Linked DNA regions of Homo sapiens. The protein of the gene in region 1 purifies or fractionates together with the protein of each later gene. This does not show direct contact. Each region holds a gene or a part of one and is shown in the gene's direction. Other genes may lie near its edges. The genes, in order: ZRSR2, RBM17, SERPINB8 and CHERP.

Region 1 (7,032 bases):
CTCCAACTCACAATTCTTTGCCTAGTGGTACTTCATGAATACTGTAGACTATGGAACACTCCTGGTTTTTTTTTTTGAGACAGAGTCTCACTCTCTCGCCCAGGCTGGAGTGCAATGGCACGATCTAGGCTCACTGTAACCTCTGCCTCCCAGGTTCAAGTGATTCTTCTGCCTCAGCCTCCTGAGTAGCTGGGATTACAGGTACCCACTATCATGCCCGGCTAATTCTTGTACTTTTGTAGAGATGGGGTTTCACCATGTTGGCCAGGCTGGTCTCAAACTCCTGATCTCAGGTGATCTGCCCACCTTGGCCTCCCAAAGTGCTGGGATTACAGGCGTGAGCCACTGCGCCCGGCCAGGAACACTGCTGTTTATTGTAGCACACGTTAGATGGGTAAACATTACCCAGAAGGCTAGAATGTTGAGTGTAACTATGAGAGTGCCTTGGCAAATGATTGGAGTGCCTTGGCAAATGATTTCTGGAATAGTGAGCTCTTAATTACAGATAGCTTCTTTGGCATCCATTCTACTTCAGATAACTGGAAACAAGCTACCTCGTCAGAAATTAAGATATTAAAAGCAAGTTGCAAAACTATAGCATGATTCTGTGTGTACAGTTACATGTACAGGTTGAGTATCCCTTATCTGAAATGCTTGCGTTGTATTTACCAGTTCAGCATCCCAAATCCAAAGATCCAAAATTCGAAATGCTCCAATGAGCATTTCCTTTGAGCATTGTTGTCACTCAAAATATTTCTCATTTTTGGATTTGGGGTGCTCAACCTGTATAATACCATTGGATATACATTTGATCCTTGAACAATGTGGGAGTTAGGGGACTCTGACCGCCCCCCGCCCCTCCCCACAGTGGAAAATTTGCATATAACTTTTCACTCCCCCAAAACTTACTATTAAGTGCCTGCTGTTGACTCTAAGCCTTACCAATAACATAAACAGTTGATTAACACATACTTTGTATGTTATATGTATTATATACCATATTCTTATAATAAAGTAAGCTAGAGAAAAGAATGTTACTAAGAAAATCCCGAGGAGGAGAAAATATATTTGCCCTTCATTAAATGGAAGTGGTTCATCATAAAGGTCTTCATTCTCCTTGTCTTAATGTTGAGTAGGCCGAGGAGGAAGAGGATGATTTGGTCTTGCTCTCTTGGGTGGCAGAGGTGGAAGAGGTGGAGGAGGTAGAAGGGAAGGCAAGAGGGTAGACGGCACTTGGTGTAACTTTGCAGAAATACATTATAATTTCTGTCTGACATTTTTGCTTTTTCATTTCTCTAAAAATGTTTCTATACAGTACCAATTCTTCCACCACTTGCTTTAGTTTAAATGCATTAGTTTTCAGTATAGAAGGGTCCATAAAAGAAGTCAAAAGCAGTCTTGAATAATTGGCCCTTCTGCCAGATTGTCTAGTGTCAATTTGTTTTCTGGCACTGCTTCACCTCAGTTTTCTTCCTCATCACCTTGCACTGGTTTGGAAGGACTCATCCCCATCAAATTGGCTTTTGTTAACTACTCTGGTGTGTCTGTTAGCTCTTGAATTTCTTCAAGATATCTTGAGACCCTTCACCCCGACCCCCCTGCACTTTTCCCCCCCCCCCATATTTACAATCTCTTTCACGATTTCCTTGATTGGCTCTGTCTTAAGTCCAATGATGCCATGCACAATATCTGGACACATTTTTTTCTCCAGCAGGACTTTGTTTTGGGCTTGATGATTTTCATGGCTTTTTCTATAACAACAATAGCATCTTCAATGGTATAATCTTTACACACTTTCTTGATACTCTCTGTATTAGGGTTCTCTCCCATAGCATTGACAATCCTTTCCGTAGAGTACCACGTGTAATGAGCTTTAGAGGTTCTTACGACCCCCTGGTCTAGAGGCTGAATTAGAAACATTGTGTTTGGGGGCAAGTAGACCACTTTGACACCTTCAGTGTTGAACTCATGGGGTTCTGGGTGGCCAGGGGCATTGTCCAATATTAAAATAATTTTAAAATCCAGTTCCTTATTGGCAAGGTACTTCCTGACTTCAGGGACAAAGCATCAGTGGAACCAATTCAGAAAAAAGGATTTCCATTGTCCAGGCCTTCTAGTTGTACAACCAAAAGACAGGCAGCTGGTGCTGATCTTTTCCCTTCAAGGATTGGGGGTGGGGGTTAGCAGCTTTATAGATAAGGGCAGTTCTGATCATAAACCCCACTACGTTTTCATGAAACAGTAGAGTTAGCCTGTCTCTTTTTGTTTTCAATCCTGCTGCTTGCTTCTCTTCCTACTAAATGTCCTTTGTGGTGTTTTTCTAGAATAGGATACTTTCATCTGCATTAAAAACCTGTTCAGGCCAGGCGCAGTGGCTCACGCCTGGAGTCCTAGCACTTTGGGAGGCCAAGGCGGGTGGATCACGAGGTCGGGACTTCGAGGGCAGCCTGGCCAACATGGTGAAACCCTGTCTCTGCTAAAAATACAAAAAGTAGCTGGGCGTCCTATTCACGCAGATATCCTTTCTCCTCAGTGATTTTCTTTTTTGTTTTTTGTTTTTTTTTTTGAGATGGAGTCTTGCTCTGTCGCCCAGGCTGGAGTGCAGTGGCATGAACTCGGCTCACTGCAACCTCCGCCTCCCGGGTTGAAGCAATTCTCCTGCCTCAGCCTCCAGAGTAGTTGGGATTACAGACACGCACCACCGCGCCCGGCCATCATGACTTTTCTCTGCTTCTTGAGAGCACTTCCAGCATCGCTAGTCGCACTTTGTGTGAGTCTCATGATGTTATTCAAGGTTTACCATTTTGTAGTAAACACAGTGAAAAATACGCCAGAGATCACTTCTTACTGCCATACACAATTTACTGAAGAGATGAACTGCTCATGCAGAGATGAGTAGTGTCACAAGGTGTTTTAAGTGAATACTCATAGTATTTGAGCTCACTGCAATAGCAGCAGGAGGTGGCTATGAAATTATTGCAGTAGTGCAGTGTGTACTACAGTTAATTTTTTTCTTCCTTCTGTACCTCATTGGATGCGTTTTTTTCCTTGTTTTGTACTACAGTTAATTTCATGCAGTTATGATTTAATACTGCATATTTATGTTTGTTTACATTTTTCTCAACTGTGAATGTGCCATATATGGTCTATAAATATAAGTTTTGATAAATTTTAACTTTAAAAAAAGTTGTCAATGATTATGTTGTAGCACAACTTTTATAGTAATATTCAAGGAAAAATGTTTGAGACCGAACTTCTCTGTCTTAGAATGGAATGAAGTCAGAGATCATTTTGTTTCAAATCGTTTTTTTTTTTTTTTTTTTTTTTTTTTGAGACAGAGTCTCGCTCTGTCGCCCAGGCTAGGGTGCAGTGGTGCAATTTCGGCTCACTGCAACCTCTGCTTCCCAGTTTCAAGCAATTCTCCTGCCTCAGCTTCCTGAGTAGCTGGGATTACAGGCGTGCACCACCACACCTGGCTAATTTTTTTATTTTTAGTAGAGATGGGGTTTCGCCATGTTGGCCAGGCTGGTCTCGATCTCCTGACCTCAAGTAATCCGTCCACCTCGGCCTCCGAAAGTGCTAGGATTACAGGCATGAGCCACCGCTCCCTGGCCTGTTTCAAATGCTTTAAGCAAGGAAACAATAAAACACTTAACTTATATTGTAACAGTATCTGTATATGTGCTGCTCAAGCCAGCACAATATTGCTTAACAGTATCTGCATTAACTTTTTTTTTTTTTTTTTTTGAGACGGTGTTTTGCTCTTGTTTCCCAGGCTGGAGTGCAGTGGCGCGATCTTGACTCACTGCAACCTCCACCTCCCGGGTTCAAGCAATTCTCCTCCCTCAGCCTCCCGAGTAGCTGGGATTACGGGGGGCTGCCACCACGCCCGGCTAATTTTTGTATTTTTAGTAGAGATGGGGTTCACCATGTTGGCCAGGCTGGTCTCGAACTCCTGACCTCAGGTGATCCGCCCGCCTTGGCCTCCCAAAGTGCTGGGATTCCAGGCATGAGCCACCACGCCCAGCTCTGCATTAACGTTTTATAATAGATTTATATTTATGGTAGCAAATGATAAAATAGACTAGTATGTACATATATTTTATGCATTCATGACATACCTTTTTCTTAATTTTTTTCAGTGTTTCTAGGCCATGCCACTTACCTATTTTTTTTTTCAAATTGTTGCAAATATCCCCTAAATGTTCCAGTGTGTTTACTGAAAAAAAATCTGTATTTAAATAGACCAAGGTGGTTCAAACCTGTGTTGTTCAAGGGTCAGCTGTATTGTATGTATATGTATTGCATATGTCCGATTGTACACGTGGGGAAAATGCTGTACCCAGAACTGTTAGCAATCACTTCTGTGGAGTATATGAGCTTGGTTTCGAGGTGATGGGGAGTTGAGTGAGTCAGTCAACAGGTGTTTGTGAGTGTCAGCTGTGTCTATGCCCTGTCTAATCTATGGCATACCTCTGCAAGTAGTCAGGCCATATCCTCTGTGCCAGGTTCTCTGGCGCTTTAAGTACATTAGATCATTTAATTATCTGAACAATTAGATACTATTTTATATGATTGAGAACTTATTCTACATTTGTTGCCCATTTTAATTCCAGCTGCTGAAATAATAAAGTTTACTTACTTAAGAAAAGTAAATTATTGTAATTATCTAAGACTGGATGAGCCTTCAGTTAGAACTGTACTCAACACATGTGACAAACAGACTCTTTTTTCTTTAAGCCTGACATCTGTAACATTTCTTTAAGATTATTTCAGTCTTCCATTTCTCTTCCACTTTCACTGATTTTTTTCCCAAATTTTGAATGGGAGAGGATGTAAATGTCTATTCTATTAAAAGTTGTTTTTTCATGTTTTTATTTGGGAAATGTTCTAATCTACAGAAAGTTGAAAAAAAGAGCACAATAAATATCCATGAACCCTTCAGCAAGATTTGCCAGTTGTTAAAGTTTGGCCTTTCTTTCTTTTTCTCTATTTAAAGAGATACATACATAGAACATTTTTTCTGAACCTTTTGGATGGCAGTTGCAGATAGCAGCACCTCACCCCTAAATTCTTCAGCTTGCAACTCCTAAGAATAAGGACATTCTCCCGCAGAACCACAATACCAAACTTGCACCTGAGTACATGAGCAAGTAATTCAATGGTATCATATACAGGCCATATTTAAACTTCCCCAAACCAGGATTGATTGTTTTGAAAAACTCAAGCCAGTTATCTTGTGGAATGCCCTGTATTCTGGATTGTTCTGTCTTCTCATGATTAACTTCAGGTAACAACACTCTTTAGAACAAAGGATTACAGAGCAGATGTTGTAAACTTCTTATTGCATACATCATGAGACCTTTCACATCAGGTTGTTGCACTCCCGGTGATGCTAACTGTGGTTAAGGTGTTACCCACCCAGGGCCGGACATGCTGGCTCATGCCTGTAATCCCAGCACTTTGGGAGGCCGAGGCAGGCGGATCACGAGGTCAGGAGATTGAGACCATCCTGGCCAATGTGGTGAAACCCCGTCTCCACTAAAAATACAAAAATTAGCTGGGCATGGTGGCGCGCGCCTGTAGTCCCAGCTACTTGGGAAGCTGAGGCAGGAGAATCGCTTGAACCCAGGAGGCGGAGGTTGCAGTGAGCCAAGATCGCGCCATTGCACTCCAGCCTGGCGACAGAGCAAGACTCCCGTCTCAAAAAAAAAAAAAAAAAGTGTCCAGATCGCTCCATTGGAAAGCATTGCATTTTTTCTTTTCTAATTAGTCCTCATGTCTGGGGTGATATGTTGAGATAGTGTGAATATACTCTTCCTAGCAAGCTTTCATTCGATGTTTTTAATGTCTTTGTCTAAATTTTTACAGTGGGGGTTGCAAAAGTGATGATTTTTCTACTTAAGTTTTTCTCCATTTTTTAGTTACCATTCTTCTGTGAAGATGGATGTTCCCTTCCACACCCCCACCACCTTTTTTTTTTTTTTTTTTGAGATGGAGTTTCACTCTTGTCGCCCAGGCTGTAGTGCAATGGCACGATCTTGGCTCACTGAAACCTCCACCTCCTGGGTTCAAGTGATTCTCCTGCCTCAGCTTCCCGAGTAGCTGGGATTACAGGTGCCTGCCACCATGCCAAGCTAATTTCCTTTTTAAGTATAATTGTGGAACCATTGATTAATTTTTAAATGTAATGTGCTATCTGCCACCCCTATTGTCCTTTTTGATGCTTGTGTTGTACCAAAGAAGGTTGATCAGAGACCTTTTTGTTAGAAAGTTTAAGAAAAAGATTTTTACCATAATTTTATACATTAAAGATTACATGTATTTTTTTCCTGAATTTTTGACCAAGGATTTGCAGCACTCAGTTTAATAAAACATTTAAATTCCCTAGGACTCTCACAGAAGGAGGAAGAGGAGGACACTTTTATTGAAGAACAACAACTAGAAGAAGAGAAGCTATTGGAAAGAGAGAGGTCAGTGCTAATTGAAACACTTAAAGTGAATGAAGTTATTTTATTGGAATATTATCAACCTTTACTAACCAGTACCAGTCTTCTGTATAAAATCTTGTACCAAATAGGTCTTATAAAATATCCTGTATAAAGTATTTAAATCTGTAGTTGATGGGCTAAAACTAGATGTTATTTTTTTTAAAAATGGAAGTACTTTTCTTCTGTTTTTGCTAATTTATAATTTTTTTTCTTTCTTTTTTTTTTTTTTTTTTTTAGACGGAGTCTCGCTCTGTTGCCAGGCTGGAGTGCAGTGGCATGATCTCAGCTCACTGCAATCTCCGCCTCCCGGGTTCAAGCGATTCTCCTGCCTCAGCCTTCCGAGTAGCTGGGACAACAGGTGTGCACCACCACACCCAGCTAATTTTTGTATTTTTAGTAGAGACAGGGTTTCACCATGTCGGCCAGGGTGGTCTTGATCTCTTGTGATCAAGTGATCCGCCTGCCTCAGCCTCCCAAAGTGCTGGGATTATAGGCATGAGCCACTGCGCCTGACCTGTAATTGTTTTTGAAAACAGAAAAA
Region 2 (4,946 bases), on another chromosome or scaffold:
GAAAGAAGAAAACTTTTCTGGCAGCCCCGTTCATGCACAGCTTAGGATACATCACGAGCCTGACAGGTGAGTGCCAGAAACCAACAGTTGTCCCGACTTGTGAGGTTATCTGAAGTAAGGCAGCCGGTGGCTGGATTAGTAACTGCATATTCCCCTGGGCCCGTGACCTTGAACGTTTGCTCCAAGTCAACTCACCTATAGGAATTATCACTCACATGCCCTGTCAGCCCTTTGGGAAGTGAGATGAGCAAAAATTGCAAGTAATGGTGGAGGCTCAAAACATCCAGATGCTATTGTAAAAACATGCCAAAGCAAAGCAGAGGCTTTTATTGCAGATAAGGCTGTGTTTTCGCTCAGAGACCAATTGTGTAGATGCCTAGGACATAAATGGTGGGGATCGCTATTGAAATTAAATTAATTATTGTAAGTAGGACTCAGTTCTGTAACACATCTAATGATATGCTGCTCAGTTCTGTAACACATCTAATGGTATGTTTTGATACAGATGCATCCAAGAAGTCAGATTCAAATCCGCTGACTGAAATACTTAAGTGTCCTACTAAAGTGGTCTTACTAAGGGTAAGAAGCTGAGGAAAGCAAGCTCTCTGCCTGCCTAGATTTGTGTGTGTCACCCCAGCCTACCCTGCTCCCCCTAAAAGTTAAAACTGAAAATGATACTTTTGCAAATAATACTTTGGGCAGATCCCACGTAAGGCTGATTTTAGATTTTTCACTAATGTGTAAGTCTCTTTGCTAAGTACAGTGTTTAAGACTGCAGTGAGTAATTAAATATTTGAAATTGCTAGAGCTTCAGATAGTTTATACATTTTGGTGCTTGCATAGATGCTTTTGTAACTCTTTACAGGCTTAATATATGTTTTAGTGTTTTAAGAAATACTAACTTTTGGGTACTTTGGGGATGAAATTTTTCATTATGTCGTTTGGGATTGAGAACATTTACCATCACTAAGTCATATTTATATACCTCTGCTAGGTGTTTGTAAGTTATACTTGGTACTTGAATTTGTTTATTTTTGTGTTTAAAGAACATGGTTGGTGCGGGAGAGGTGGATGAAGACTTGGAAGTTGAAACCAAGGAAGAATGTGAAAAATATGGCAAAGTTGGAAAATGTGTGATATTTGAAGTAAGAGTGTTTTCTTTTGATGTTTATAACACAAGTTGTAATTGGCACATTACAAAACATTTTCTACAAACAGGACAGGGTATGCTATAAGTAACATTCTTACTGCAGAAGGTGACAGGCGTTGGTTATTTGTACTTCTCTTGCTCAATTATTACAGTTTTAAACATAAAGACAATGATTTCAAGTTTTATTTGATGAAGAAACAGGAATGCTTCATGATTGAGGATCAGTATGATGACTGAAGACCTTGATTCTAGCGTGCTCAGTAGTTTAGTTCCTTAGACATGCCTTTGGTTTCAGTCATTTGGTGAGTATTTAGTGCCTCTCACATGCACTGCACTGTGCGGAGAGCACTTGGATTACAGGAAGCATGCTCTGTACTCTCAGTGGTGTGTTCAGTTGAAGAAACACATAAAATAACTGAAAGATATTCAGTTACTAGACTAGGTAGTATTGACTAAGTTCAGGAGTTGAGAAAAGGATTAGATCAGTGAAAAAATAGACTGCCTTGTGAGCAATAGCAGATATGGGCTGCGCTTTGAAACGAACAGGTGGGATTTGCAGGGAAGGGTATTCTGATTGGGATAATGGCTCGTAGGAGACAGTGAAGATCAGGACTACCAAAATGGAATGGATGGGCCTGTTGGGGATTAGCAGAAGTGCTTAGGTGGGTGGAATTACAGAGGGCTAGGAAAGCTAGACAGAGCTAGTCAAAATGAGACCTGATGTGAAAGGCCACTAGGGCACCAGCCTTTTTAATCTGAAAGCTCTGCTTCCTCTGTTTCTTTATCCTGTTGCTGTTTGTTGACCACATAATTATTTGTTTACGTCATCAGCTGGCACAGGGCCTTTATGAGGTCAGAGACTGCCTAGCCCTGTGTTCCTGGCACCTAACAATGCCTGTCATAAAAACAGGCATTCAGTACGTTTTTGATGATGAACAAATTATACTTATTTCCTTGGTATTTGACAACTACTTGACTGTATATGATGATAATTAGAATATCCACTCTGAGAAATCATTTAAAAGAGAAAACTCATTCAATGCAATCTCAAATGCCTTTACTCATCACGCTCTCATTTTCTTCCAGATTCCTGGTGCCCCTGATGATGAAGCAGTACGGATATTTTTAGAATTTGAGAGAGTTGAATCAGCAATTAAAGGTTAGTGGTACAGCTAAATATTAAAGAATAAAAAAGTTGAATTTACAGCCTTAATCTTTACAAGTAAAGTTACTGTTTAATTAAAGTTAAACCTTTATCTTATAGGATACCTGTATTAACTGTCTTTTGTTTGCCTTTCAGCGGTTGTTGACTTGAATGGGAGGTATTTTGGTGGACGGGTGGTAAAAGCATGTTTCTACAATTTGGACAAATTCAGGGTCTTGGATTTGGCAGAACAAGTTTGATTTTAAGAACTAGAGCACGAGTCATCTCCGGTGATCCTTAAATGAACTGCAGGCTGAGAAAAGAAGGAAAAAGGTCACAGCCTCCATGGCTGTTGCATACCAAGACTCTTGGAAGGACTTCTAAGATATATGTTGATTGATCCCTTTTTTATTTTGTGGTTTTTTAATATAGTATAAAAATCCTTTTAAAAAAACAACAATCTGTGTGCCTCTCTGGTTGTTTCTCTTTTTTATTATTACTCCTGAGTTGATGACATTTTTTGTTAGATTTCATGGTAATTCTCAAGTGCTTCAATGATGCAGCATTTCTTGCACTAAAAAAAAAAAAAAAAAAAAAACTAGAAAGTTTTGGGACATGGGGTTATATTAAATTATTCTTTGTTTTTCTTTTTCTTTTAATAAAGCCTGCAAGTTACTAAATTGTAGTTTCATAAATTCTGTAGTAAAGTATCATCTTGGCAGTGTGCCAAAGGTGAAAATGATGCTTTCTCTAACAGAGAAATTCTTAGTGACTCCAGTCGTAGAAAAACGTCTTTACAACCTGAATAAGATTGAAGAATTGTGAACATACCATGGCCTATTGGATGAATCATTTGCCGTAGGCTAAATCAGACTGTAGGGTTTGTGATGGATTTATGGAGTATGTGGGTATAGAAATCATGAATCTAGCATTTGTTTTCAGAGATTCAAGCATAGTCTTAAGGGTAGATCAGAAATGACAAATGAATTCAAAACCTAGCAGGTGCATTGTAAATGTGTGCCCAGTTATGTTTTGGAAATGGCAGTTCCTTGGGGTCATGTTTCTACTGGCAAAATTTGCAATAGTGTTCTATTGTATGTAATTTTAAAATTTATAAGATTATCCACGTTGGCCAAGTAAACTGTACTGCCAATAGAATTCTGGAATTGTGAGAAATTGTATCATTGAAGTTCAGTAGGATGTGTGGCTTAAAAATTTATCAGGACCACAAAAAAGAAAACAAAAATATTTGGTACTGAGGTTCATTGCCAGGGCAGGAGGTATTTCCAGAAAATACTCATGCCTGTGTTCTGTTCCTTGCTTTCCCAAATACTGCATGTGACTTTCCTAAGCGGCAGCTGAAAGACTCGAGCCCGTGCTGTCTCCTTTGGTTATTATGACATGAAAGTGTATCAAGAACTCAGCATTTCTTTGCATCCATGGACTTGGTTTGGAGACATAAGGAATATTCTGACCCTTTTTAAAAAAGGATTTTCTCATGTTTTTATTTAACATAAATAAAAGAATAACATTTTATCTTTTGTGGTATTATTTTATTGAATAAAATTGAGTTTTATGATAAAAGTGCACCTGTTCTGTAAAGTAAGTTGGGGTTAAGGAATGTGAGGTAAATTACATAATTGAACATTGTGGAAGACAGAATCAAAAGCAGCCCTGGAACTTCAGTTATCTATGGAATTAGGCATACCATTCCTCAAGTGGAAACCATGTTTGTGCTTACAAGTACCGGAGTGTGCTTGTTTAATTTTAGAAACTAATGGTTCCAACCCACCTTTCATGCATGCATTTATTGTTGTTATGCTTTGTAAAACATTGTTTGCACCTAAATGGGTGGCTTTTCCTAACATTCTCATGGTCAGCAACCAGAGAGTTGCAACCAACTCATACTACTTGATTTCCGTTCGCATGAGGACAGCTTGGTGTGTGCCTTTCTCCCCAGTCTTTTATTTTTAAAATAACTGTGTTAATCAGTTAGTGCTTTATTTATAATGAATTTCTGATAGTCGAATAATTTCTAAATCTCCTGCAAGTTAGTACTTGAGAAATTTGAAATTAATTTTCAATATTAACATTTAAGCTAATATAAAAATTTTAAATTTCAATAAAAATTAAAAATTATGTAAGCTACAATGTAACTGGCAAGTTTCCGTGTAATAGACGTTTGTCATTCTTGGTGGCCCATCTGTGAGTTTTTGAAACCCCTTTTTCTTTTTTTTTCTTTTTTTTTTGAGACGGAGTCTTGCTCTGTCGCCCAGGCTGGAGTGCAGTGGCATGATCTGGGCTCACTGCAACCTCCGCCTTCTGGGTTCACGCCATTCTTCTGCCTCAGCCTCCCAAGTAGCTGGGACTACAGGCGCCCGCCACCACGCCCGGCTAATTTTTTGTATTTTTAATAGAGACGGGGTTTCTCCGTGTTAGCCAGGATGGTCTTGATCTCCTGACCCGTGATCCGCCTCAGCCTCCCCAAGTGCTGGGATTACAGGTGTGAGCCACCGAGCCCAGCCTGAAACGCCTTTTTCTGTGTGGGGAACTTCCTTGTTTCCCTCCTCCCCGCAAGAGACTAGAAACTTGCTTTCCCAGCCTGTCTTGCAGGTTGAGTAGGGTTGTGCGCTTGGGATCTCTGATCAGACC
Region 3 (7,032 bases), on another chromosome or scaffold:
AAATTACAATTTTAGATTTTATGATGACTTCTGAATTACGTCCTTTGTAAATTGTTACTGATACACCCATCCCTGTTATCAATCCCAATATGTCAATTCTCCTGCACGCAGCCCTGCTTCTCCCCCTTAATTCCCTGTCCCTGAGTGACCACATCATTCAACACGCTGTACAGAGCTCCTCCCCAGTCCCAAGTGTGGTTATTCGGCTGCCTCCTGCTGAGGTAGCCTCTCAAATTCTCTTAAATTTGCCCGCCCTCTTCTGAATTGCACCTACAACTGACACAATCGTCTTTCTAAAATGAAAATCTGTTCATAAAATTGAGGTTTTAAATCTAAGCAGTTTCTATTTACTTCAGCATATAATTCCAAGGTTCCCTAGTCCAGCCTGGCATAATGCAATCAGTGAGGTTCAAAAATCATGCCACCTGATATGCAGGGTGATGTTGTCTTAAAATTAGTGAACTGATTGCAGCAAGCTTGGCCATCCTATTGGCTGGAGGTTCTGAGAGGACTCCTCTAAGGCTCAAATACATCCCTGTCCTGGTAGCTGCTGGGTGCTGTTCCCGGAATTTGCCTGCTCTGGGTTTATCTACCTCAGAAGGTGACTCTGGATCCCAGGAATCTCCTGATGAATCCATTTCATTTTTGAACATCAGCCTGATCTACTACTGTTGTAATACTTGGGACACAGGGAGCCAACCTCTACTTTTCCTGGTGGCTTGGCTCCTCCTTCCCTCTATATCCTCTTTCTTTGGCTGAAATTAAAATATTTGAGAACAGGGAATGGACAGAGGCTGGGAGCCAGTTTCCAGGCCTATTATATCCAAAGCCAGGTTTTTGTGAGGTAAGTTATCTGGGTTTTAATGTGTTGGGTACAGGACTTTTCTGATTGGACCCCAACTTACATTTCAAGGCTCTTCCCCTGCCACTGTTTCCCTTAATCCCCTCCCTGATACACACAAACACACATACACATGTACACACACACACAAACATGCATGCAATCCACACACATGCAGGTGCCCAAGCACTCACATGTACACATGTGCACTCATGCACACAGATGTTCACACGCATGCACACGTATGAACCCAGTTGCACACACACCCTATGATCCAGGCCTATCACGCTCCATTCCCATGGGGCCTTCCTTGCTCTGTATTCTTCCAACCAACCATATGACCCAGATCTAAAATGCTATTTCCTTCTTTGCAGTTCAACACGATTTCTTAACAATCTAGTTCCCTTATAAAGCCTCTCGTTTAACCAAAACCACAATACTGTAGTTGGTGCTGGTGATGCAAAATGAGTAAAAGTGTGTTAGACTGCCTAGTGAGGGAAGCAATATTAAAGTCAGTGGAGAGCGTTTGACAAGGATGCTCCTGTGATGTTTTGTGGATAGTGGCAGCTCATGATGTCCTGTAAGTGTCTGGGTGTCTCAGCTGCCTCTTCTCAGGCTGTGGACCTCCTCAAGCCAAGCACCTTGCCCAGTACCAGGCAAGAATAGGTGGCCCATACATTTTTGTTAATTGCACGCATGCACCTTGAAGTGGAGTGTGACCTGTCCAAGCACTTATTGTAGAAATGCAGTAAGAGAAAACAAAATGCTTTTGCATTTGTGGGAACCTTTACCAAATGAGACTAAACTCAGTGTTTTGTGTTTGCAGGACTTTAAAGAATACTGTCAGAAGTTCTATCAGGCAGAGCTGGAGGAGTTGTCCTTTGCTGAAGACACTGAAGAGTGCAGGAAGCATATAAATGACTGGGTGGCAGAGAAGACTGAAGGTGAGACAGTTTCATTTCTGTTGATTTGGAATTACTATACAACGAGGCTTAGATTGACTGGGATGGGACTTCCCAGGGTGTTGCCACTGTGACCTGCATACCACAGGCCTGTTTGTATGTGTTTGCTGAGTTTACAGGCCAGCAATGCAACTCTGTCATTTCTTATCAGATCATGAAGTACTGATTTCTAAAACTAATGTTGAATCTCTGACCTCCTCCCCTGTGGACCGTGCTGGAAAATCCCTGGAAAATGGCTCCTCCTTGGAATTCTGTTAATCTTCTATCTGAGAGGCCCTTCCATGCTCGGAGACAGAATGGCATTCAATTAAGTTGCGGCTTAGAGAGGGCAACATTTCATGCTCTCATGTTATCTCCTCCGCGTGGTAATGGGACAGCTCAGTAGTTTGATCTGCAGCCTTCTCCTTCCTTTTTAACTTGGCCATGGCTACATTTGCTCTCAGAGTGTGGCCTTTTCTGAATTTGTTCCCTATTCTGGAGGTGCAGCGACATGGAGCCTGCAGTGTTCCCTGCCCAGACCACATTCCATCCCACCAGAAATATTTCTGCCAGTTCTTTACTTCAGTAGGAAAAAGGGGGAGTCATACTTTAAAGCATCCTAAATACCTAACAAGTAATTTCGATACTTGTAAACGGTGGAGGAATTAAGTCACTTATTTCAAGGGCCAACCTAGCACTCATTATTGCATCCATTCCATCCTATGTCGCAACCACTGTGTGTCCAGCAGAAGTAATGCCCCTGATTCTACTGAAAGCCAATACAATAATTACCATGGGAAGGGAAGAGCCTTTTGTGTTTTCATACATCATCTGCCTAGTGGTCTTTCCAGTTGTTCAACAGTACTGTCACCTGAGGAACCTAGAAGTTTCTCCACACCTTCCCCCCACTGCCCTATACCTGTCACTGCTCTTCCAGGGCTGCTTATGCCCTTCCTTCCCTTAGGCTGACCACCCACATTTCCCCCAGAATATTAGAGCTGAAGGGGACCTTGGAGATGACCTTGTTACCCTCTCATTGGACAACTCAATTTGGGCCCCTCTATTCTACCCCCCTAATTCCTTTGCCCCATTCACCCCCTTCAGAGAGGCTGCCTTCTCCCATTGACAGATCTGTGTTCTCTCATCCTTTGGAAAGCTTTCCTTGTCTGATGAGGTTTGAATATATGCATAGAGCAATGATCCTCAACCAGGGGTAGCTTTGCCCTCCAGGTGCCATTGGATAATGGCTGAAGACAATCTTGGTTGTCAAAATGGGAAGAAATGCTGCTGGCTAAACATCCTACAATGCACAAGACAGCCCCCATAACAAAGAATTATCTGGCTTAAAATGACAATAGCGGTGAGGCTTGGATATGATAGTGCCAAGGTTGACTGCCCCATAGTCAGAATCAAGACTCTGGGGTGATGTTCTCAACTCAGCCACTTGTCACCTGTGTGCACTCAGCAAAAGTCTGGCAAATGCTCTGGTCCTGAATTTCTACATCCATAAATTGAGGGCAAAATGATAGTTGCCCTTCCTACTTCAAGATTTTTTTCTTAAGCACAAATGTTACACTGTGTATGCCACACTGCTAAACACCATCGCCTAATTCATCAGGGGCCCAGAAAGACAGAACTCCAGCCTGTCTCTCAACCAAGCCTCTGCCTTATGTGTCAAAGGGATTTTTGTAAAAGAATGCTTATTTCCCCACAAATTGCAATAAACTCTCATATTCTTTATAGGTAAGATTTCAGAGGTACTGGATGCTGGGACAGTCGATCCCCTGACAAAGCTGGTCCTTGTGAATGCCATTTATTTCAAGGGAAAGTGGAATGAGCAATTTGACAGAAAGTACACAAGGGGAATGCTCTTTAAAACCAACGAGGTAGGGAAAGATTTTTCAGATATACTGCTACTTTCTTAAAGTAATATTACAGGAAATATTCTCTTGGAAAAATGAATAATTTATTTGACATGATCTTGATTTTAATCTATTTCTGAATTATATTATATTATTTTATTTTCTTTGAGACAGGGTCTCTTTTTGTCACCCAGGCTGGAGTGCAGTGGTGTAATCTCAGCTCACTGCAGCCTCGACCTCCCAGGCTCAAATGATTCCCCAACCTTAGCTTCCCAAGTAGCTGTGACTACAGGTGCACACCACCAGGCCTGGCTAATTTTTGTATTTTTTGTAGAGATAAGGTTTTGTCATATTGCCCAGGTTGGTCTCAAACTCCTGGCCTCAAGTGATACACCTGCCTTATCCTCCCAAAGTTCTGGAATTACAGGCAGGAGCCACTGTGCCTGGCTTCTTTTCTGAATGAATTTAATGCCTCCTGTGTATCTTTAATGGCGGAAGGAAGAGAGAAACAAAAATAATTTTGGTATTGATAGTTTTGTTTTTCCATCTTTGATCAAATCTACCTTCCATCTCTGGTCATATGATTTGGATTGGAGGAGAATTTCTTCTAAGCCTTGGAATTATGTTTGCATGATGCTATTACTCTCTGTATTTAGTTAGATACCTTTTTGCAATATCAGTGGCAACTATGCCTATTTATTGCCTTAAAAGTCAAAGTTATACAATCCTGAGCACAAGAAAAAAAAGTTAGCAGATGTAAAGCCTAACTTTACCTTCCCTTTTGAATATTAAAATGGCTGGTATCAATAGTTGTTAGCTTGGGATTTGACATCCATCAAATATGATACTCTCATATTGCACAAAGATATGAAAGTTAAAAATATATTTGATGCAGGCTTTAAAAACAGCAGACCTTACACATCTCTTCAAGGTCCCCTTCCTAAGAAAGCCAAGGCCATAAAACCAATTCTACAACAAGGCAACTTTCCAGAGTTTGGACCGTACATCTTTTCTAACCAGATCCTTCAGCCCAAGGGCCTGAATATTTATCTTAACTTCGATAAAGAATTTTTAGTTGGAAGCTTCCATGAGAAAGCTTCTCTGTGAATGTTCTCAAAAAAGCAAACACAGCTTCTTCCAAGGATAATGTCAATTTTTGTGTCCTTCTCCATTTACCAAACTGTTTTTTTTTTCTCACCTGGTAATATTTGATCTGCTGGAACAATAGCTTGTTCTATTCAATACTAAGATGTACTAATGAAGATTTTATATCTATCAGCATAAATGTGCAGAAACAGTAATTATACACACCTAGAGTTTCTGTGAGTTAGATATATCCTATTTTTAGTAAATTATACCCACTTTTCAGTAATCGAACTTTAATTTTTCCGTTAGGAAAAAAAGACAGTGCAGATGATGTTTAAGGAAGCTAAGTTTAAAATGGGGTATGCGGATGAGGTACACACCCAGGTCCTGGAGCTGCCCTATGTGGAAGAGGAGCTGAGCATGGTCATTCTGCTTCCCGATGACAACACGGACCTCGCCGTGGTAAGCTCCAGGCAATGAGCCTGAGTATCTGTGGAGTCCAGCTGAGCTCATTTCTTTATGTTCATCTACCAATTGGCATTTGAGGAGTTTCCAGTTGGGGTTATTACAGGCAGTGCTGGGTGAACATCATTGTGTGTCTTTTGATGAACATGTTCATGCATTTCTGTTGAGTGTATACATATATGAGTGGACAAGTTTTGATGAAGCTAAGAAGAGAGAGTTCTAAATATATTATTATTTGGAATATTATTCTTTATTCTGCATGGAAGGTCTATTTGAAAGCCCAATGATTATTGCACAAAAGTCCTGGAAGAAGGGTAGGGATCAATCTTGGCAGTGATTCTCAAACACTAATGCACATATATGATTCTAGTGATCTTGTTAAAGTGCAGATTTTGATTCAATGGAGTGTGGCCTGAGATGTTGCATTTGTAACAAGATTCCAAGTGATACAGATGCTTGGAACCACACTATGAATAGCAAAAGTCTAAAGTACAGGTGGGAAATTTACCTTATACAAGAGGAGAGAAAAGTCTTACTGTGACAGAAAAGGAACAGAGTCCAGGAAGGGAAGTGGTAAACTTGCAAGGTAGGAGGTGCAAGACTAATAGTGCACTTGTAAACCAGCTCTGGGAGGTGGGAGAAGCCTTCATTTATAAAGTTTGCTGATTCTCATGACATGGTAAATACTCCCACCATGGCCGACTTTAGTCTACTGAGGGTTTAACAATTGATAGGGGTCAGCTCTGGCACACCAATGCACAGGATGTTGAGGGTGGGCTGCTTGATTTTCCTGGCTTCCCTTTGGAATCAGAAAGCTACTGCCCTAAGTCAGGGATGACATCTGTTGTGGCCACTTATGAGAAAATTAGGAGAGTCTAGAAATAGAGTCAAAATCAAAACAATGCTCGTTGGAGAGGAGTACCCACCTGGGCTCCAGTTGTTAAAGGGAAGGGGAGATGCTAGTGGAAGGCCTTTCTCCCTTTTTTCTTTCTACCTTATTGATAAATAGAAAGAGTGATGGATCTTGAAGAATTTGAAGCTAACTCCAGGACAGGCAGAGGACAAACAAGGATGCTGATGAAGTCTTCTTGCATTCCCCATTTCTCGTCTCATGCTCCCTTCTCATGCCTCCCTTCATCTTCAGATGAAACACAATTCCCTCTCTTTTACTCTGAGTTGCCCTCTGATTTAACCCTGAATAGTCCCCTCATTAGACTCAGAAGCAGAGTTCTGAGCCATGCTCTTTGTCTTTTGTCAAACAATCTCTCCCACTCACAGTAGTATGTATTGCATGAAGATTAATGTAATGAATTGGTTAGAATTTTCTAAACTGTTAAAAAATGTTTTTAACATTTGAAAGGAGTTAGGTACAAATTGTTTTTATTAAAAATTTCTGCCTGTCTCAGGTGTTTACTAGCTCTTTTACACTTGTCTCCATAAAACTGTGAAAAGATGAAAATTTGGGAGAAAATCTTGGTGTGTTTATAAAAGAAAATATCTGTAGATTTTCTTGGACCAGAACTCACCATCTAATTGCATGTCATTGGGGGAGGGGTAATAAATGGGTGTGTGGGTATCAGGCTATTGTCATCTAAATTTTAAGGTTTGAGTCTTTCTTATCCTAGGTGGAAAAAGCACTTACATATGAGAAATTCAAAGCCTGGACAAATTCAGAAAAGTTGACAAAAAGTAAGGTTCAAGTTTTCCTTCCCAGATTAAAGCTGGAGGAGAGTTATGACTTGGAGCCTTTCCTTCGAAGATTAGGAATGATCGATGCTTTTGACGAAGCCAAGGCAGACTTTTCTGGAATGTCAACTGAGAAGAATGTGCCTCTGTC
Region 4 (7,032 bases), on another chromosome or scaffold:
AGTTTAAAACCGTTGCTAGGCCGGGCGCGGTGGCTCACGCCTGTAATCCCAGCACTTTGGGAGGCCGAGGCGGGCGGATCACGAGGTCAGGAGATCGAGACCATCCTGGCTAACACGGTGAAACCCCGTCTCTACTAAAAATACAAAAAATTAGCCAGGCGTGGTAGCGGGCGCCTGTAGTCCCAGCTACTTGGGAGGCTGAGGCAGGAGAATGGCGTGAACCTGGGAGGCAGAGCTTGCAGTGAGCCGAGATCGCACCACTGCACTCCAGCCTGGGCGACAGAGCGAGACTCCGTCTCAAAAAAAAAAAAAAAAAAACCGTTTCTAAAGGCAGCGGGAAGCCACAAGAGTTTTAAACAAGGGAGAGGGTGGCTTGGGTTGTGTGGCCGGTGGTGTAGGACAAGCTACAGGGACCAGCCTGGGGAGCAGTGAGGCCTGCAGGGGAGCAAACAGGGCAGTTGTTTAGGTGAGAGATGGTGGGGTCTGAATTAAGTCAGTAGGTTGAGCCTGAGGGAGGGAGCATGGGGGGCAGGTGGGGTGAAGGGGTAGAATCCATGAACTTGGGCGCCAGTTGCATATTGACGACCTGATGGTGTAATGAGCAGGGGAGGAAGACACCTCAGACGGTGCTTTGGCTTGGGTGACTGAGCTAAGGGCTGCTTTCCCTTTCTGGGGCGGGGGGGTGGCCACTTGGAAGCTGGTGCCATTATGAGGAAGGAGAGGGTGCTTATGCTTATAGCCCAGGAAGATTGAAGCCAAGAAGTGCTTTCTTTTTTTTTTGGAGATGGAGTCTTGCTCTTGTTGCCCAGGCTGGAGTACAGTGGCAAGATCTTGGCTCACTGCAACCTCTGCCTCCCAGATTCAAGCGATTCTCCTGCCTCAGCCTCCCAAGTAGCTGGGACTACAGGCGTGCGCCACCACACCCAGCTAATTTTTGTATTTTTAGTAGAGATGTGGTTTCACCATGTTGGCCAGGATGGTCTTGATCTCTTGAACTCATGATCCGCCCACCTTGGCTTCCCAAAGTGCTGGGATTACAGGCGTGAGCCATCGTACCCAGCCAAGAAGTGCTTTCTGTGGGTGATGATATCTTGGCTAGATGTAAAGGGTGTGTTGGAGTTGGCCAGGTGAAAACAAGGGGAGAAAAGTGTTCCGGGCAGAGGAAGGAGCCCTTGGAGGGAATGGGGAACCCAGAGCTTAGGGTGGCTGAAGCCCAGAGTAGGAGGGGTTCTTGGAGTGGCCAGAGGTGGGGGTGCAGAATTGGGAGCCTGGCTTGGGGAGGAGTTGGAGGCCTGGCTTGGGGAGGAGTCGGGGACCTGGCTTGGAGAGGAGTGAGGAGTGTATCCTGGAAGCGTGGGAGAGACTCGTGGAAGGTTTAGGTCTGTGTTGTGAAGCTGGGTTAGCCACAGTACAGCCAGTTCTGCACCCCACGCCTTAAAGCCTGGGCCTCAACTGTTGTAGAATGGAGCTTCACGAACTCTGTGGTGAAGGACCATTTCTGGTGTTGTGTTTTAAGTTTCTAACCTGTTGTGTGTGGACCAAAACTTCTGCAAAGCACAGTAACAATGTGGACCGTGAACCATCACGCTGCTAGAAAGGTTTTGAAATGCTCCCTTTCTGGTTCCATAACCGTCTGTCACCGCTGGGTAGCCCAGGGACCACTCCATAAGTGGCAATACCATGACTGCCATGTCAAAAAGAGGTAGAGGGATGGGACCTGATGCAGGAAGACCGGTTCTGGGGTGACGCAGGTGACAGCAGATCCATGGTGGTGACAGCGGGGACATAGACTGATTGGAGTGATGTCTCGGAGGCCGCCTTGACACTATGTGGCTCGTCACTGGGAGGCACATGCTACTTCTGGCCTGGGTTTCTGGGCAGATGGTGGTGCCAACCATGGTGCGGGGAGCACAGGAGGGGACATAGGTGTAGGGGGTGAGAGGAAACACAGGCCCCTTGGAAACACAGTGGGCCGTGCAGTTGGTGGTTAGGGCCAAAGCTCAGGAATCCAGAATGGAGATGATGGATTTAGGAATCACACCATGCACAATCGCAGCCACAGGAATGAGTAGCTCATGTTGCCCGGCGGTTGCGTAGAGCGGAGGACAGGGCTCAGAACACAGGCCGCGCACCCCAGCATGTGAGGGTCCAACGGGAGAGGGGTTGGTAAAGGGGGAGAAAGGGACTGAGGGGGCGAACACATGGAGGCCAAGGGAGGCAAGCACCTGCGACAGGCCCGGGGGGCTGAGTTGAGTGAGGGTGTCCTCAGCTGCCTGGGGGAAGGAGGGGGGTGCGGGGAGTGGCAAGCAGGCACCAGGCTGAGATAAAGGGGAGGTGAAGATCTGGAGTGAGTCTTGTCTGAGAAATCGTTTAGAGAGGGATCATGGGGTAAAGGGAGAAGTTTCCAACCCAGAATATTCTGATGTGTTTATTTATTTCCTTTTTTATTTTTTGAGATGGAGTCTCACTCTGTCACCCACACTGGAGTGCAGTGGCGCCATCTCGGCTCACTGCAACCTCCACCTTGCAAGCTCAAGCAATTCTCCTGCCTCAGCCTCTCAGGTAGCTGGGATTACAGGTGCCCGCCACCACGCCCGACTAATTTTTTGCATTTTCAGTAGAGACAGGGCCATGTTGGCCAGGCTGGTCTCGAACTCCTGACCTCAGGTGATCACCCGCCTTGTCCTCCCAAAGTGCTGGGATTATAGGCGTGAGCCATCATGCCCAGCCCAATGTGTTTAGATGCTGCTGGGGAGGGACGGGTAAAGAGGGAGGAGTTGGAGAAATAAGAGATAGAAGAAATATCAATAAGCAGTGTCCCTCAGACAGTGGGAGGGGTGGGATTCAGTGCAGAAGTTGGGGGTCATCCTGTAGGGTGGCTTTGGGTGCACAAACTGGAGGGCACAGTCAGCCCCGAGACTTGACTTGAGCGCCCAGTGAGGGGCGACACCTTCCACCTGACACCCCACCTCCCTTATCTTTGGCTTTGTCCTGGTCCCCTTGGAGTGGGGCTCTGGAGGGCTCCAGGGGTACCTGGTCACATTTAGACCAGGCGGCCCCAAGACGGAGAGAGAGGCAGGTCATCTTGTCCAGGGCCTCCTTATGAGCCGGGTCCCTTCCTCAGAGACCTCACCACCTGCCCCATCTGGCCAGAGTTGGGACCTGCGCCCACCCTGACCCAGGCTTCTGCCGGCAGAATGGGTGTCTCACTGCTGCCTCAAACTGGATGCACCCCTGAATGCAGAGGGGTCTCTGTCCCCAAGGGCTGGAGAAGCAAGGAGAGTCAGTAGAAGGACAAGGCAGGTGTGGGGGAGGCCGCAGTGTGCGCTCGGGGGTGCGGCTTCGTGCCTTTCTGGCCAGATGTGCAGAGGCCCGGTGGCTGTGACATCTTAACAGTCAATGGGTAGCTTAAGTGGCAGAGGTCAGGGAGTGGCCGAGGAGGTCGGAGGATGAGAGGTACTGAGGCCTGGGTTCTGCATCAGGTGGGGCCTAGGTGGGTGAGGAGGTGGGCAGGCAAGCTTAGCTTGCACCGGAAGGACACTGCGCAAGGACTGGATGGTGCTGGCGAGAGAGCGGCCAGGGGACTTCCTAGGTTCTCCGAGGAGGGGACGGCCCGAAGATGGAATGCTGAGGCTGGGATCCTGTGAGAGGGAGGGCAGGACCCGAGACTAGGAGGAGCTGGTTTGCGTGGGCATGAGGCTATGAACAGGCCCTCGTGGATGGTGAGTCCCTGGGGAGGGGGAGGCCCCTGTGGCTGAGAGGTGGCCAAGGGGACACCTAGACCCCCATCTGCATTCTCATGGGGCACCCCTCCTCCTCTCCCTCCAGTCATCTGCAAGCAGCAGACCCCGGAGCTGGAGCCAGCCGCCACCATGCCACCCCTGCCACAGCCCCCGCTGGCCCCCGCCGCGCCCATCCCGCCGGCCCAGGGCGCGCCATCCATGGACGAGCTCATCCAGCAGAGCCAGTGGAACCTCCAGCAGCAGGAGCAGCACTTGCTGGCGCTCAGACAGGTATGGGCCCGCCGCCTCCTCGGCCAGACACCAGCAGCTCCCCTGTGCCTCTGTTTTTGCGTCTGCTCATCAGAATGAATAACAGGTGTCAGTGAGGACAGGGCCCCCCCTGCCACCCAGGGCTCGGTGCATGTCAGCCACTGTCACCCCCAGCCCTGATGCCAGACACAGAGGCTGCTTCTCATCTCAGTGAAGCCACTGGACGTGCGTGCACCCATCACCCTGGGGTGGACCCCCCTGAGTGGGACTGTGGGGCACGTATGCACCTTGAAGCTCCCTAATGGCTGTGGCCAGGCAGCCTCTGGTGCCTACCATTGGCCCCACCACACAGTAGCTAGGTCACCTGGAGCTGTTGGTTGGGGAAGGACCCTTTTTTTTTTTTAAGTCTTGTTCTGTCGCCCAGGCTGGAGTGCAGAGGCGTGATCTCAGCTCACTGCAGCCCCTACCTCCCGAGTTCAAACGATTCTCCTGCCTCAGCCTCTGGAGTAGCTGAGATTACAGGCATGCACCACCACACCCGGCTAATTTTTCTATTTGTAGTAGAGATGGAGTTTCACCAGGTTGGCCAGGCTGGTCTCAAATTCCTGACCTCAGGTGATCCACCTGGCCAGAAGGACCCTTTTGTCCTTCCTGGTCCAACAGTTTGATAACTTTCGCCAAATAGAATACAGGTGCATTGGCTGGGTGTGGTGGCTCACACCTGTAATCCCAGCACTTTGGGAGGCTGAGATGGGCAGATCATGAGGTCAGGAGTTCGAGGCTAGCCTGGTCAACATGATGAAACCCTGTCTCTATGAAAAATACAAAAATTAGCTGGGCGTGGTGGTGCACGCCTGTAATCCCAGCTACTTGGGAGGCTGAGGCAGGAGAATTGCTTCAACCTGGGAGGAAAAGGTTGCATGAGCTGAGATTGCACCACTGCACTCCAGCCTGGGTGACTGAGCAAGACTCAGTCTCAGAAAAAATAAATAAATAAAATACTACAAGTGCATTGCCAGAAAAATGAGAGGAATAGAATACCAAACCTCCAAAACACCAACCCCACGCTCAGTACTAGGTTCAGGGCATAAAATCACACTGTCATATTGCTCTCAGAAAATTCCAGCTGGGCACAGTGGCTCAGCCTATAATCCCAGCACTCTGGGAGGCCAAGGCAGGCGGATCACAGGGTCAGGAGTTTGAGACCAGCATGGCCAATATGGTGAAACCCTGTCTCTAGTAAAAAATACAAAAATTAGCTGGGTGCAGTGACAGGTGTCTGTAGTCCCAGCTACGCGGGAGACTGAGGCAGAATTGCTTGAACCCGGGAAGTGGCGGTTGCAGTGAGCTGAGATTATGCCATTGCACTTCAGCCTGGGCGACAGAGCGAGATTCCATCTCAAAAAAAAAAAAAAGAAAAGAAAAGAAAGTTCCAGAATGCTCACCCTCAGCTTCTGTTCATCATGGAGTGGGAGGCCTGCCTTGACCAGCCGTAACTGACCGCTGGTCCGCATGGCAGCTCTGTTTTTACCAGTCGCACTTTAACCGGTGTTTCCTCTTGAGGAATGAGATTGCCCCCTTCTTGCTTCACTAGAGGCCATGGGTGTATCCTCTTCTTCTATTGCCTGTCGTTCACACCATGCCTCATTTGTCTTTTTTTTTCTTTTCTTTTCTTTTTGTTGTTGTTGTTGTTGTTGTTTTGTTGTTGTTAGAGACAAGGTCTTGCTGTGTCACTCAGGCTGGAGTGCAGTGGTACAGTCACAGCTCACTGTTTAACTTTGAACTCCTGGGTTCCAGCAATCCTTCCGCCTCAGCCTCCCAAGTAGTTGGGAACACAGGCACACACTACCATGCTCAACTAATTTGTATTTTATTTTTTGTAGAGATGAGGTTTCGCTACGTTGCCCAGGTGGTCTGGAGCTCCTGGGCTCAAGCGATCCTCCCGCCTCAGCCTCCCAAAGTGCTGGGATTACAGGCATGAGCCACCGCGCCCCGCCTTTGTTTTTTGTTGAGTTGGTTTGCAGAGGTTGTTTGTTCCTCTGGGCTGCAGTGTTTTCCTTGGTTACCTGGAGGGCAGGTGTTGTCTCCTGGTATGTCCTGTCAGTGCCCTGCCCACTCCAGGAGGGACTGTCACAGATTCACGGCAGGCATGAGAGACAGAATCTCCTCCTGCTGGGGACAAGCAAGGGAGCTGATGGCCAGAGCAGCCCAGAGTCCGGGCATCGCCACCATGTCCCCACCCCGCCCCTGCTGAGCCAGGCCGGAGGGCTCAGGCTGCGGGTCCCTCCTCATGTGTTCTCGACCCCACCGACCCCCGCCCGCAGGAGCAAGTGACAGCGGCCGTGGCCCACGCGGTGGAGCAGCAGATGCAGAAGCTTCTGGAGGAGACCCAGCTAGACATGAACGAGTTTGACAACCTCCTGCAGCCCATCATCGACACGTGCACCAAGGACGCCATCTCGGTGAGGGGCCAGCACTTCCCAGAGCCCAGCTTTCCCTTGGTCCCTCCCTGAGGCAGGGCCTGTCGTAGCCAATCTGGGCTAAGGGCTGTTACAATGGGTGCCCTTCCCTCCCGCCTGGAGCTCCTGAGGCTGTGGGACCCTGTGCCCCCCACGCTCATGGTGTGTCCTTCCCTGAGCTGATGGTGACGCGCTCTCAGGGATGCAGTGGGTGCCTGGGGGAGCCGCGGCCCTGCTCACTCGTCATTGGCTCGGTTGTTGCAGGCCGGGAAGAACTGGATGTTCAGCAATGCCAAGTCCCCGCCGCACTGTGAGCTGATGGCCGGCCACCTCCGGAACCGCATCACGGCTGATGGGGCACACTTCGAGCTGCGGCTGCACCTCATCTACCTGATCAATGACGTGCTGCACCACTGGTGAGCGCCGCCACCCCGTGCCCAGAGCGCCACTTCCTCGCGCTCCTCCTCAACCCTCCTGGGTGGCCGCTTGCTCCGGTCGGTAGCTTGGCTTGGCCTGTCCCGAGACTAGGGGGCACTTGTCCGGGGACCCCGGGTGGGGGGTCTCTGTGAGCCACCAGGCTT

Evidence for each region.
Region 2: the proteins of ZRSR2 (region 1) and RBM17 purify together in Homo sapiens (affinity purification with mass spectrometry; 4 studies listed by BioGRID and IntAct, with this or other methods). This does not show direct contact.
Region 3: the proteins of ZRSR2 (region 1) and SERPINB8 purify together in Homo sapiens (affinity purification with mass spectrometry; 3 studies listed by BioGRID and IntAct, with this or other methods). This does not show direct contact.
Region 4: the proteins of ZRSR2 (region 1) and CHERP purify together in Homo sapiens (affinity purification with mass spectrometry; 3 studies listed by BioGRID and IntAct, with this or other methods). This does not show direct contact.

The regions. Positions count from the first base shown.
Region 1 is NC_000023.11:15,793,481-15,800,512, forward strand, and holds part of ZRSR2 (U2 small nuclear ribonucleoprotein auxiliary factor 35 kDa subunit-related protein 2), read left to right. Parts: exon of another isoform or gene 1-2,569; coding exon of another isoform or gene 2,570-2,770; intron 2,771-6,391; coding exon 6,392-6,473; intron 6,474-7,032. UniProt on the Homo sapiens protein: Pre-mRNA-binding protein required for splicing of both U2- and U12-type introns. Selectively interacts with the 3'-splice site of U2- and U12-type pre-mRNAs and promotes different steps in U2 and U12 intron splicing.
Region 2 is NC_000010.11:6,113,003-6,117,948, forward strand, and holds the end of RBM17 (splicing factor 45), read left to right. Parts: intron 1-505; coding exon 506-579; intron 580-1,046; coding exon 1,047-1,145; intron 1,146-2,236; coding exon 2,237-2,309; intron 2,310-2,450; coding exon 2,451-2,554; 3' UTR 2,555-4,445; downstream 4,446-4,946. UniProt on the Homo sapiens protein: Splice factor that binds to the single-stranded 3'AG at the exon/intron border and promotes its utilization in the second catalytic step. Involved in the regulation of alternative splicing and the utilization of cryptic splice sites.
Region 3 is NC_000018.10:63,980,054-63,987,085, forward strand, and holds part of SERPINB8 (serpin B8), read left to right. Parts: intron 1-1,667; coding exon 1,668-1,785; intron 1,786-3,525; coding exon 3,526-3,668; intron 3,669-5,039; coding exon 5,040-5,192; intron 5,193-6,204; coding exon of another isoform or gene 6,205-6,213; exon of another isoform or gene 6,214-6,597; intron 6,598-6,820; coding exon 6,821-7,032. UniProt on the Homo sapiens protein: Has an important role in epithelial desmosome-mediated cell-cell adhesion.
Region 4 is NC_000019.10:16,532,433-16,539,464, reverse strand, and holds part of CHERP (calcium homeostasis endoplasmic reticulum protein), read left to right. Parts: intron 1-3,828; coding exon 3,829-4,013; intron 4,014-6,316; coding exon 6,317-6,454; intron 6,455-6,715; coding exon 6,716-6,867; intron 6,868-7,032. UniProt on the Homo sapiens protein: Involved in calcium homeostasis, growth and proliferation.